2 linked regions of the Homo sapiens genome follow. The protein of the gene in region 1 interacts with the protein of each later gene in a pairwise test. Each region holds a gene or a part of one and is shown on either strand. Other genes may lie near its edges.

Region 1 (5,840 bases):
GATATATTGTGAGTGGAAATACTTTGTAACTCTTAAGCAGCATACAAAAGTTTTTTTACCTACTGTTTTTATTATAGATTGTTATAAAGATGAAAAGCATCAGTAGGAACTGTGGGAAAGAAAGCTTATCAATTCTAAGTAGGTTTTTAAAATTATCAAGGAGTAATGCTAAAAGAGACAATGAAGAGTTTATTGGAACAGATTAAAAGAGTACAACACCACTGCTTGCTTTGAGGACTCATCTTTTGAGCCTCCCAGCCTTGAAGAGCATAAGCACAAGCAGTAACCTAGGCTTTAAAGAAACTTCTCTGAGTTAAACACCAAAATAATTACGTGGGTTGGGATAGGGTGCAGAGAAGTGTATGCCTACTTTTCCAAGCCAGAGATTTAACATACAAGGGTTATGCCAAGCATGTGGAACACTGATTTTACTAAAGGAAGAGTTCTCATATACCTCATGAATATTCCATTTCTTCTTTATTAAAGAGATCTATGGCAACCTGTGCCTCCCCCCACCAGCCCTGGGGAACTTTACACGCTGTGGAACAATTGTCTTCTTAATTCCATGGTCTGCATTCTACTTAGATCACAGGATGATCAAGCACCCTTTTTGTGTTTGAGAGTGTTTACTGACTTGATTTGAGGAAGATGGGATCCAGATCTTTTCAGACACTTACTAGGGTGATGCAGAAGGGCTAAGCCAGGTAGCTTCATTCCTGTTTTTGTTTGTTTGTTTGTTTGTTTTTAAGACAGGGTCTTGTTCTGTTGCCCAGGCTGGAGTGCAGTGGTGCGATCTTGGCTCACTGAAACCTTCACCTCCAAGGTTCAAGCAATTCTCATGCCACAGATTCCCCAGTAGCTGGGATCACAGGTGCCTGCCTGCACACCCTGCTAATTTTTGTATTGTTAATAGAGACAGGGTCTCACCATGTTGGCAAGGCTGGTCGTGAACTCCTGGCCTCAAGTGATCTGCCCGCCTCAGCCTTTGAAAGTGCTGGAATTACAGGCATGAGCCACCACACCTGGCCATCCATCTCTGTTCTTGTCTGGCAGGGCCCTTTCTTCCTTGATCTATATGACTGGTGTTTTTCTTCTTTTCTGAGACAGAATCTTGCTCCAGGTTGGAGTGCAGTGGTGTGATCTTGGCTCACTGCAACCTTGGCCTCCTGGGTTCAAGCAATTCTCCTCCCTCAGCCTCCCAAGTAGCTGGGATGACAGGCACGTGCCACCATGCCTGGCTAGTTTTTGTATTTTTAGTAGAGATGGGGTTTCACCCTGTTGGCCAGGCTGGTCTCAAACTCCTAACCTCACCTCCCACCCACCTCGGCCTCCCAAAGTGCTGGGATTATAGGCGTGAGCCACCCTGCCCAGCCTGGCTGGTGTTTTTCAAGAGCTGCCAATGTGTGGCTCTGTGCTGAGTGTTGTAGAAGCAAATGTAAGACGTAAGAGGTGTTTTTCTTCCATGAGTTTATAATTTTCTTGGGAAGAGGCATATAAAAATAAGAATAAACTCTTAAAGTCAGTGATATGGTTTGGTTCTGTGTCTCACCCAAATCTCATCTTGAATTGTACTCCCATAATTCCCATGTGCTGTGGGAGGGACCCTGTGGGAGATGGTTGGATTGTAGGGGCGGTTTCCCCCATGCTGTTCTTGCTGTTGTGAATAAGTCTTACGAGATCTGACGGTTTGATAAGGAGAAACCCGTTTCGCCTGGCTCTCATTCTCTCTCTTTGCCTGCCGCTATCCACATAAGATGTGACTTGCTCCTACTTGCCTTCTGCCATGATTGTGAGGCCTCCCCATCCACATGGAACTGTAAGTCGAATTAAACCTCTTTAGTTTGTAAATTGCCCAGTCTTTGGGTATGTCTTTATCAGCCGCGTGAAAACAAACACAGTCAGTCTTTCTTTTACTCATCTTATTTATACATACAAAGTACTCATCATGAAATGTGTTAAATAAATAAGTGAATGAATGAGATAAATCAAAATGCAAGGCAGCATATAGCACTAAAATGAATGAAACAAGCAGTAACTGCTATAGGACCGAAGAGATGTGTCAATTTGGGTGAAAGCATTTGAGGAAGGTCTAAGGTTACAGCCCTTGATTTGGGTCTGGAAACTCCCAGTGCTCTAGGTTATTGATTGGGTAGAAAGAGTCAGCAACAGGCCTATCATCAATCTTTTACTCTTTACTGGGAATGCCTGGGGGAGAAAAAGGATATGCTGGCAATCAGACCTTCTGATAACACTAACAGTTCTTCCTAGCAGAAAAATAATAGAGTCCTTATCCATGAAATGCTTTTAGAAGGATACATCAAGTGCGTGTGTCTACGTTGTTTATGATAACAAAACCTGTAATTTGTGGATTTATAGGTGACATGACAGGTTGGGGAATTAATGGGGAATAAATGGAGATGTTAATGGAACTATTTCCTTTGTAAATCAATGTTCCACACTCACTGCTCTCCTCACATAAGCAGGTTGGGAGAATGTGAGACCCTGAATTTTAAATCTGAATCAGAACAAGTCCTGAAGGTGAAGAAAAAGAACCTCCATTAATGATCTTGGGCTTCTCTGAGGAAAGGATGCTTTGCTTCTGCCTTGTGATTGCTGAGACCCTTTGCCAAATTGTTTTAATTTTTAGAAACAAGGTCTTGCTCTGTCACTGAGGCTGGAGTGCAGTGGTGCAATCATAGCTTACTGCAGCCTCCAACTCCTGGGTTCAAGTGATCATCCCCTGCCTCAGCTTCTATAGAAGCTGGGACTATAGCCTGATGGCACCATGCCCAGCTAATCTTATTTTAATATTTTACAGATGGGGTCTCAAGATGTTGCCCATACTGGTTCAAACTCCTGCCTTAAGTGATCCTCCAGCCTCAACCTCCCACGTAGTTGGGATTACAGGCATGAGCCACAGTGCCCAGCTGCCAATATGCTTTGAATTTTCAGTAAGGACTGTCGTTGAGGAAGATCAATTGCTCAGGTGAGTCCGGCTTGACAATCTGACCCTTTGTGTTAACTCACTCGGTCACTCTGCCTCTCCTGTTTCTCTTCTGTTACTGTGAATTGGTTCATCTTTGCTCCTTACTAGCACTGAGACTTCAACCTGGTTTTATAAGTGTTCTGAATCTTAGTTTCCTCATTTGTAAAATGGGTTGATATCTGCTGTGGCTGTGAAATTACATGGGGGAAAATGTATTGAGCACTTACCCTTCCCTGCACTGGAGCAGGCACTCTTTTCCTAGCTGGAACCAGCCCGGTCGGCAGGAGTGGCACTGCCTGCTGTGTCTCCCTTCACATGTCCTGCAAGAGCTGTGGCAGTGGGCACACCGGTTGCTGTCCTCATCGGCATAATAGCCCTCTGGGCAGTCCTTCACACAGGTTGTGTCTGTCATGGGAGAAAAAATGTCTATTTGGACATCGAGCATGACACATGTCTCCCCTGTATTTTCCCTCTTGTGTACCATGGCGGGAGGGAGGAGAGGGCTGCAGGAGGAATGGGATGATCCTGTGAGCTGATGGATATGTTTGGGAAATAAGATTAGTGTCCAAGAAACAGAATTGCCCTAAGGCCATGAGGAATACAAGGAAAACAGAAGTCAGTGATATGGTTTGGCTCTGTGTCCCACCCAAATCTCATCAGTGATCCCATCTCATCTCATCAGAGATCCAAATCTCATCTGTGTCCCACCCAAATTTCTCAGTGGATTAGCTGTGGTGGGTAGAACAGAAACTACAGTCCGGCGCCTGTGGATGTTGGCAATGGCTCATTGTCCAGCTCATGTATCTGGTTAACTAGGGGGAAGCCCCAGCTTCCTGAAGGAAAAACACCGCCGTATTAGTCTCTTATTGCTGTTCCTATGAAGTATCCCCAACTTGGGGCCTTGAAACAACAATTTATTATCTTACTGTTCTGGAGGTCAGAAGTCCAAAATAGATCCACAGGGCTCTGTTCCTTTTAGAGGCTCTAGGAGGGAATCTGTTTCCTTTCCTTTTCCACTTGCTAGAGTCCACCTGCATGCCTTGGCTCATGGCCCCTTCCTCTGTCTTCAAAGGCAGCAGTGCAGTAGCTTCTCTCTGTCCCTCTGCTTCTGATCACATCACCTTCTATTACTGACTCTGATCCCCTGGCATCTCTCTTTTTTTTTTTTTTTGAGATGGAGTCTCACTCTGTCGCCCAGGCTGGAGTGCAGTGGCACAATCTTGGCTCACTGCAAGCTCCACCTTCCGGGTTCACACCATTCTCCTGCCTAAGCCTCCCGAGTAGCTGGGACTACAGGCACCTGCCACCACACCCAGCTAATTTTTTGTATTTTTAGTAGAGACGGGGTTTCACCGTTTTAGCCAGGATGGTCTCGATCTCCTGACCTTGTGATCCGCCCACCTCGGCCTCCCAAAGTGCTGGGATTACAGGCGTGAGCCACCATGCCTGGCCCACCCCCGGCATCTCTCTTATCAGACCCTTGTGATGGCATTGGGTCTACGTGGATAATGCAGGATAATCTCTCTATGCCGAGATCCTCAACTAAATCACTGCCCCAAAGTCCTTTACCAAGTAGAGTAATACATTTACAGGATCTGGGGATCAGGATGTGTCATCTTCAGGGGGGCCATTATTCAGTCTACCACGATGTCCAAAAAAAGTATCTAATTTATAAATAGCCTGACCCTGGTGGTGTGGTGGTGTGGGACAGGGTAGAGAGAATGTGAGGATACCAGGCTGAGCAAATCTGCACCCATTTCCCAGGGGGACTACAGCTCTGTGTCCTATACCAGCACTGAAGCCTCAATTCTAGTCTAATCTGCAGCCTCGGATGAGGGGAAGACCACTTTGTGGAGGCAAGCTGTCTTCTCTATATGAAGGCATCTGAGATGATTACTGGTGGCACTCTAGATTGGACGTAAGTAGAAAAGAAGGTCCGACGGGGTGGGATTACCTGGGAGACGTGGCTGGAGGGAATGCTTTTATGAAGCAGCAACTGCTGGGAAGGAGAGTCACAGAGATTTGTGGACCAGGAGCTAAGGTAGATGGATAGAGAAGACTGGTCTCTTTGAGTGTTTTCTATTGTGAAGTGATCAGGAATGGTATTGAGAATAGGTCTCCCTGTGTCTTAGCAGGGGGATGGTGTCCTCGCTCAATATGAAGAGGAAAAGCTTGCCATGCATGTCTTTAAAACATTTTTTTTTAATGTTTAAAATTTTTAAATTTAAAATTTTAATTTTTTTCCATTTTTTGTAGAGATGAAGTCTCACTATGTTGCCTAGACTGGCCTTGAACTCCTGGGCTCAAGCAATCCTCCTGCCTCGACCTCCCAAAGTGCTGGGATTACAGGCATGAGCCACTGCGCCCAGCCTACCACACATGTCTATTTGGAGTTTCACGCTTCTCAGGTCTACTCTCCTGGTGGGGGAGAAAAGTGCTCATACTTCCTGGTCTTCACCATATTCATCTCTCTCTTCTGTCTCCTATGACTTCTTTTTTAGTTAAGTTTTGTTTCATTTTCTTTCTCCCATGCTTGTTTTAAGCCTAGTCACAGTATCCCTGGGAACCTGAGGACATTGTTTCATATTAGCAATAACCTTCAACTCTGATCTGTGGGACCGTGGCCAACCTTGACCTGTGCCACTTTTTGCTCAAGAGGGATTTCTTAATCAACCATGCTAAATGGAGGGGAAATTTTGATGAGGAGCTGAATATCTACATGTTCTTAAAGTGTAACCCCACAGGCTACTTATTAGTTACAAGGGAATAAATAGTAATTATGCAGTAGGGAAACTGAACATCTTGGCCAGGTGATCAACATTAATATCACCGAGGAAAGGCATGTGGAGATCAC
Region 2 (4,508 bases), on another chromosome or scaffold:
CAGTAGCCAAAATGGAGAAACAAGCCAAGTATATAAAATGACAAATGCATAAATAAGATGTGGTATATCCATAGAATGGGATATTATTCAGCCATAAAAATGGATGAGTACTAACACATACTGCAACATGGACTTTAGAAAACATGGAAAGTAAAAGCAGTGAGTCACAAAAGACCACATATTGCATAATTCCATTTATACGATATATCCAGAATAGGCAAATCCACAGAGACAGAAAGTAGACTGGTGGTCGCCAGGGGCTGAGGGGAAAGAGTGGGGAGTAATTGCTTTACGGGTATCAAGTTTTGGGGTAATTAAAATGTTCTGGAAATTATAGTGGTGATGGTTGCACAACATAGTGAATATATTAAAACCTAAAAAATATACTAAAACCTGGCCAGGCGGTGGTTCACACTTGTAATCCCCGCACTTTGGGAGGCGAAGGTGGGAAGATTACTTGAGGCCAGTTCGAGACCAGCCTGGCCAAAATGTCGAAACCCCATCTCTGCTAAAAATACAAAAATTAGCCGGGTGTGGTGGCACATTCCTGTAGTCCCAGCTACTTGGGAGACTGAGGCAGAGAATCACTGGAACCTGGGAGGTGGAGGCTGCAGTGAGCCGAGATCGCACCACTGCACTCCAGCCTGGGCGACTGAGCAAGACTCCATCTCAAAAAAAAAAAATTATATATATATATACACACACACAAAAACATGGCCGGGCACAGTGGCTCACGCCTGTAATCCCAACACTTTAGGAGGCTGAGGCAGGTGGATCACTTGAGGTCAGGAGTTCGAGACCACCCTGGCCAACATGGTGAAACCCTGTCTATACTAAAAATATGAAAATTAGCCAGGTGTGGTGGCAGGCGCCTGTAGTCCCAGCTACTTGAGAGGCTGAGGCAGAATTGCTTGAACCTGGGAGGAGGAGGTTGCAATGAGCCGAGATCACAACACTGTACTCCAGCCTGGGCAACAGAGCGAGAATCTGTCTCAAAAAAAAAAAAAAGTATATATATATATATATATATATATATATATATATATATATAAAATTACATATATACTTAAGAGTATATATTTATATAGAATGTAAATATATATTAGAGATATATATATACTAAAACCCAACCTGAATTGTAAAATGGTTCATTTGTTACATGATTTATATATTTTTGTTTTGTTTTGTTTTGTTTTGTTTTTTTGAGACGGAGTCTCCCTCTGTCACCCAAGCTGGAGTGCAGTGGTGTGATCTCAGCTCACTGCAACCTCTGCCTCCCGCGTTCAAGCAAGTCTCCTGCCTCAGCCTCCTGAGTAGCTGGGATTACAGGCATGTGCCACCAAGAACGGCTAATTTTTGTATTTTTAGTGGAGATGGGATTTCACCATGTTGGTCAGGCTGGTCTCGAACTCCTGACCTCATGATCCGCCTGCCTCGGCCTCCCAAAGTGCTGGGATTACAGGTGTGAGCCACCTCGCCCAGCTGATTTATATCTTTTTTTTTTTTTTTAAAGCAGAATGCACCCATGCCACAGTGCTCCTTCCTGCAGCCTGTCAGGCGTCGGCCCACCCTGCAACATCCAGGATGTCATTTGAGCCCTGGTCACACGAAAGCACTGCATGGGATGAAGGTGGTTTATTTATTTATTTTTATTTTATTATTTATTTATTTTTTTGACACAGAGTCTCGTTCTGTTGCCCAGGCTGGAGTGCAGTGACACAATCTCGGCTCACTGCAACCTCTGCCTCCCAGGTTCAAGCAATTCTCCTGCCTCAGCCTGGCGAGTAGCTGGGATTACAGGTGCCTGCCCCCACGCCCAGCTAATTTTTGTATTTTCAGTAGAGATGAGGTTTCACCCTGTTGGCCTGGCTGGTCTCAAACTCCTGGCCTCAAGTGATCCCCCTGCCTCAGCTTCCCAAAGGTGCTGGGATCACAGGCACAAGCCACTGCGCCCGGCCGAAGGTGGTTTCTTTTAAGCAATACATTTGTATTGAGAAAAACAAGTTCTTGGCCGGGCGCGGTGGCTCACGCCTGTAATTCCAGCACTTTGGGAGGCCGAGGCGGGCGGATCACGAGGTCAAGAGATCGAGACCATCCTGGCTAACACGGTGAAACCCCATCTCTACTAAAAAAAATACAAAAAATTAGCCGGGTGTGGTGGCAGGCGCCTGTAGTCCCAGCTACTCCGGAGGCTGAGGCAGGAGAATGGCTTGAACCCGGGAGGCAGAGCTTGCCATAAGTCAAAATCAGGCCACTACACTCCAGCCTGGGTGACAGAGCAAGACTCTGTCTCAAAAAAAAAAAAAAAAAAAAAAAAAAAAAAAAAAAAAGAAAGAAAAGAAAAAAGGAAAAAAAAAGAGAAAAACAAGTTCTTTTAAATCTCTAGGTAAAAATAAAATAATTTCTCACACACAGCCAAGTCAACTGCATACCAGAGTACCAAGCATAGTTTCCACATCAGAGGCTTAAGCTCTGGGGTAAAAGCATTTTCTTTAACCAGGTGTCTGTTAATTCACTCATATCAAAGAGAAAACTTGGCTGGGTGTAGTGGCTTATGCCTATAATCCCAGCACTTTGTGAAGCCAAGGTGGGTGGATGGCTTGAGCCCAGGAGTTAGAGACCAGCCTGGGCAGTATGGTGAAACCCTGTCTCTATTAAAAAAAAAAAAAAAAATGGCCGGACGTGGTGACTCATGCCTGTAATCCCAACACTTTGGGAGGCCAAGGTGGGTGGATCACGAGGTCAGGAGATTGAGACCAGCCTGGCTAACATGGTGAAACCCCATCTCTACTAAAAATACAAAAAATTAGCCAGGCGAGGTGGCGCGCACCTGTAATCCCAGATACTCGGGAGGCTGAGACAGGAGAATCACTGGAATCCGGGAGGCGGAGGTTGCAGTGAGCCAAGATCGTGCCACTGCACTCCAGCCTGGGCGACAGAGCGAGACTCCGTCAAAAAAAAAAAAAAAAGGCTGGGCGCAGTGGCTCACACCAGTAATCCCAGCACTTTGGGAGGTGGGCAGATCACGAGGTCAGGAGATTGAGACCATCCTGGCTAACATGGTGAAATCCCGTCTCTACTAAAAAATAGAAAAAATTAGCCAGGTGTGGTGGTGGGCGCCTGCAGGAGAATGGTGTGAACCCGGGAGGCGGAGCTTGTAGTGAGCCGAGATCTTGCCACTGCACTCCAGCCTGGGTGACAGAACGAGACTCCATCTCAAAAAAAAAACTATCCAGGTGTGGTGGTGCAAGCCTGTAGCCCCAGCTGTCAGGAAGCTAAGGTGGGATGATCGCTTGAGCCTGGGAGATTGAGGCTGCAGTGAGCTACAATTGCACCACTGCACGCCAGCCTGGGCAACACAGTGAGACCACATCTCAAAAAAAGAAAGCAAAGAAAACTCTTCATTAGAAACTGAACATGCTCGCTGGGAATGATATTCAGGGCACAGGGCAATTCCTTACAGGGGCACACACCCAAGGGCACTGCTGCCACCACATGGGAAGTTGTGACGGGAGGGAGGAGACTGAGGGCAGGACACAAGACATGGAGACACACATTCTGGTCTGTCTGACCATGGAGCTCTGTCCACACCCAGGCTGCCTGCTGGCTCCCAACCACCACACACAGTATCTGGCGTTTCTCACAGGTGTCGGCTTCTCTCTCTCGAGTCCATCTGCTGGCCGTGGACCTGGCTATTCGGGGCAGGCCCATCCTGCCCACCTCCCCACACTCTCTCAAGCCTCTGTCTCTGAGCACTGCAGGTTTTGTAGTGTTCCCTCGTCTACCTCTGAGAGGCCAGGCTGACTGAAGAGCTCCTGAGAAAGCCACCAGGACCCACTGCTAAAGGGGTTGGTCCAGGGTCATTGCCAGGCTGGGATCTGAGGTCCCCACACATAGGGCAGGGAACTCCCCAGCCATAGACTCTGATGGGGGTACCAGTGTGGACTCCAGCCCTTTACACGGAGGAGGGAGCATGCCACTATGGATGCTGAGCAGCAGGAGGTCAGGGGCCCCGCTTTCACAATGTGCCATCCCAGAAGCCCCACAGCCAGGATCTGGACCTCTCTGACACAACTCCAGGTCACAGAGACCCAGATGTCAGGGATGGAGGGACTTGGGCACCTGCCTTGCTATTAGCTCCAAGGCTGCTGGCTTCATGTCACAGTCTGTACAACAGCTGGTGGCATGAGCAGGGCTAGGACCAGCACTCAGCATGACTTCCTAGAACTCTAGGGACTTAGGGGCTGAGGACTTCCCAGGGTGAAAGACCATACCTGGGACAGCCTGGCCAAACAGGGACAATTGATCACCATGGAATCAGTGGACAGGCCCAAGAATGGATGGGCACATGAGGTCACCCAGGATCAGGCAGGTTCCACTGAAGGAGGCTGCAAAAGATATATCCAATGTCCTAACCCCGGAACTCTCAGAATGTGACCTTATTAGGTCTTTGCAGACATAATTAAGGATCTTGTGATGAGATCACCCTGAATAACCTGGGTGTGCCC

What was found. Proteins that work in one complex are often made in the same cells at the same time.
Region 2: the proteins of PCSK5 (region 1) and ZNF837 interact in binary tests that used the Homo sapiens proteins (3 or more experiments, as listed by UniProt).

The regions. Positions count from the first base shown.
Region 1 is NC_000009.12:76,329,984-76,335,823, reverse strand, and holds part of PCSK5 (proprotein convertase subtilisin/kexin type 5 isoform 3 precursor), read right to left. Parts: intron 4,905-5,840; exon of another isoform or gene 4,271-4,904; intron 3,392-4,270; coding exon 3,214-3,391; intron 1-3,213. UniProt on the Homo sapiens protein: Serine endoprotease that processes various proproteins by cleavage at paired basic amino acids, recognizing the RXXX[KR]R consensus motif. Likely functions in the constitutive and regulated secretory pathways.
Region 2 is NC_000019.10:58,374,262-58,378,769, forward strand, and holds part of ZNF837 (zinc finger protein 837), read right to left. Parts: intron 3,849-4,508; exon of another isoform or gene 3,322-3,848; intron 393-3,321; exon of another isoform or gene 1-392. UniProt on the Homo sapiens protein: May be involved in transcriptional regulation.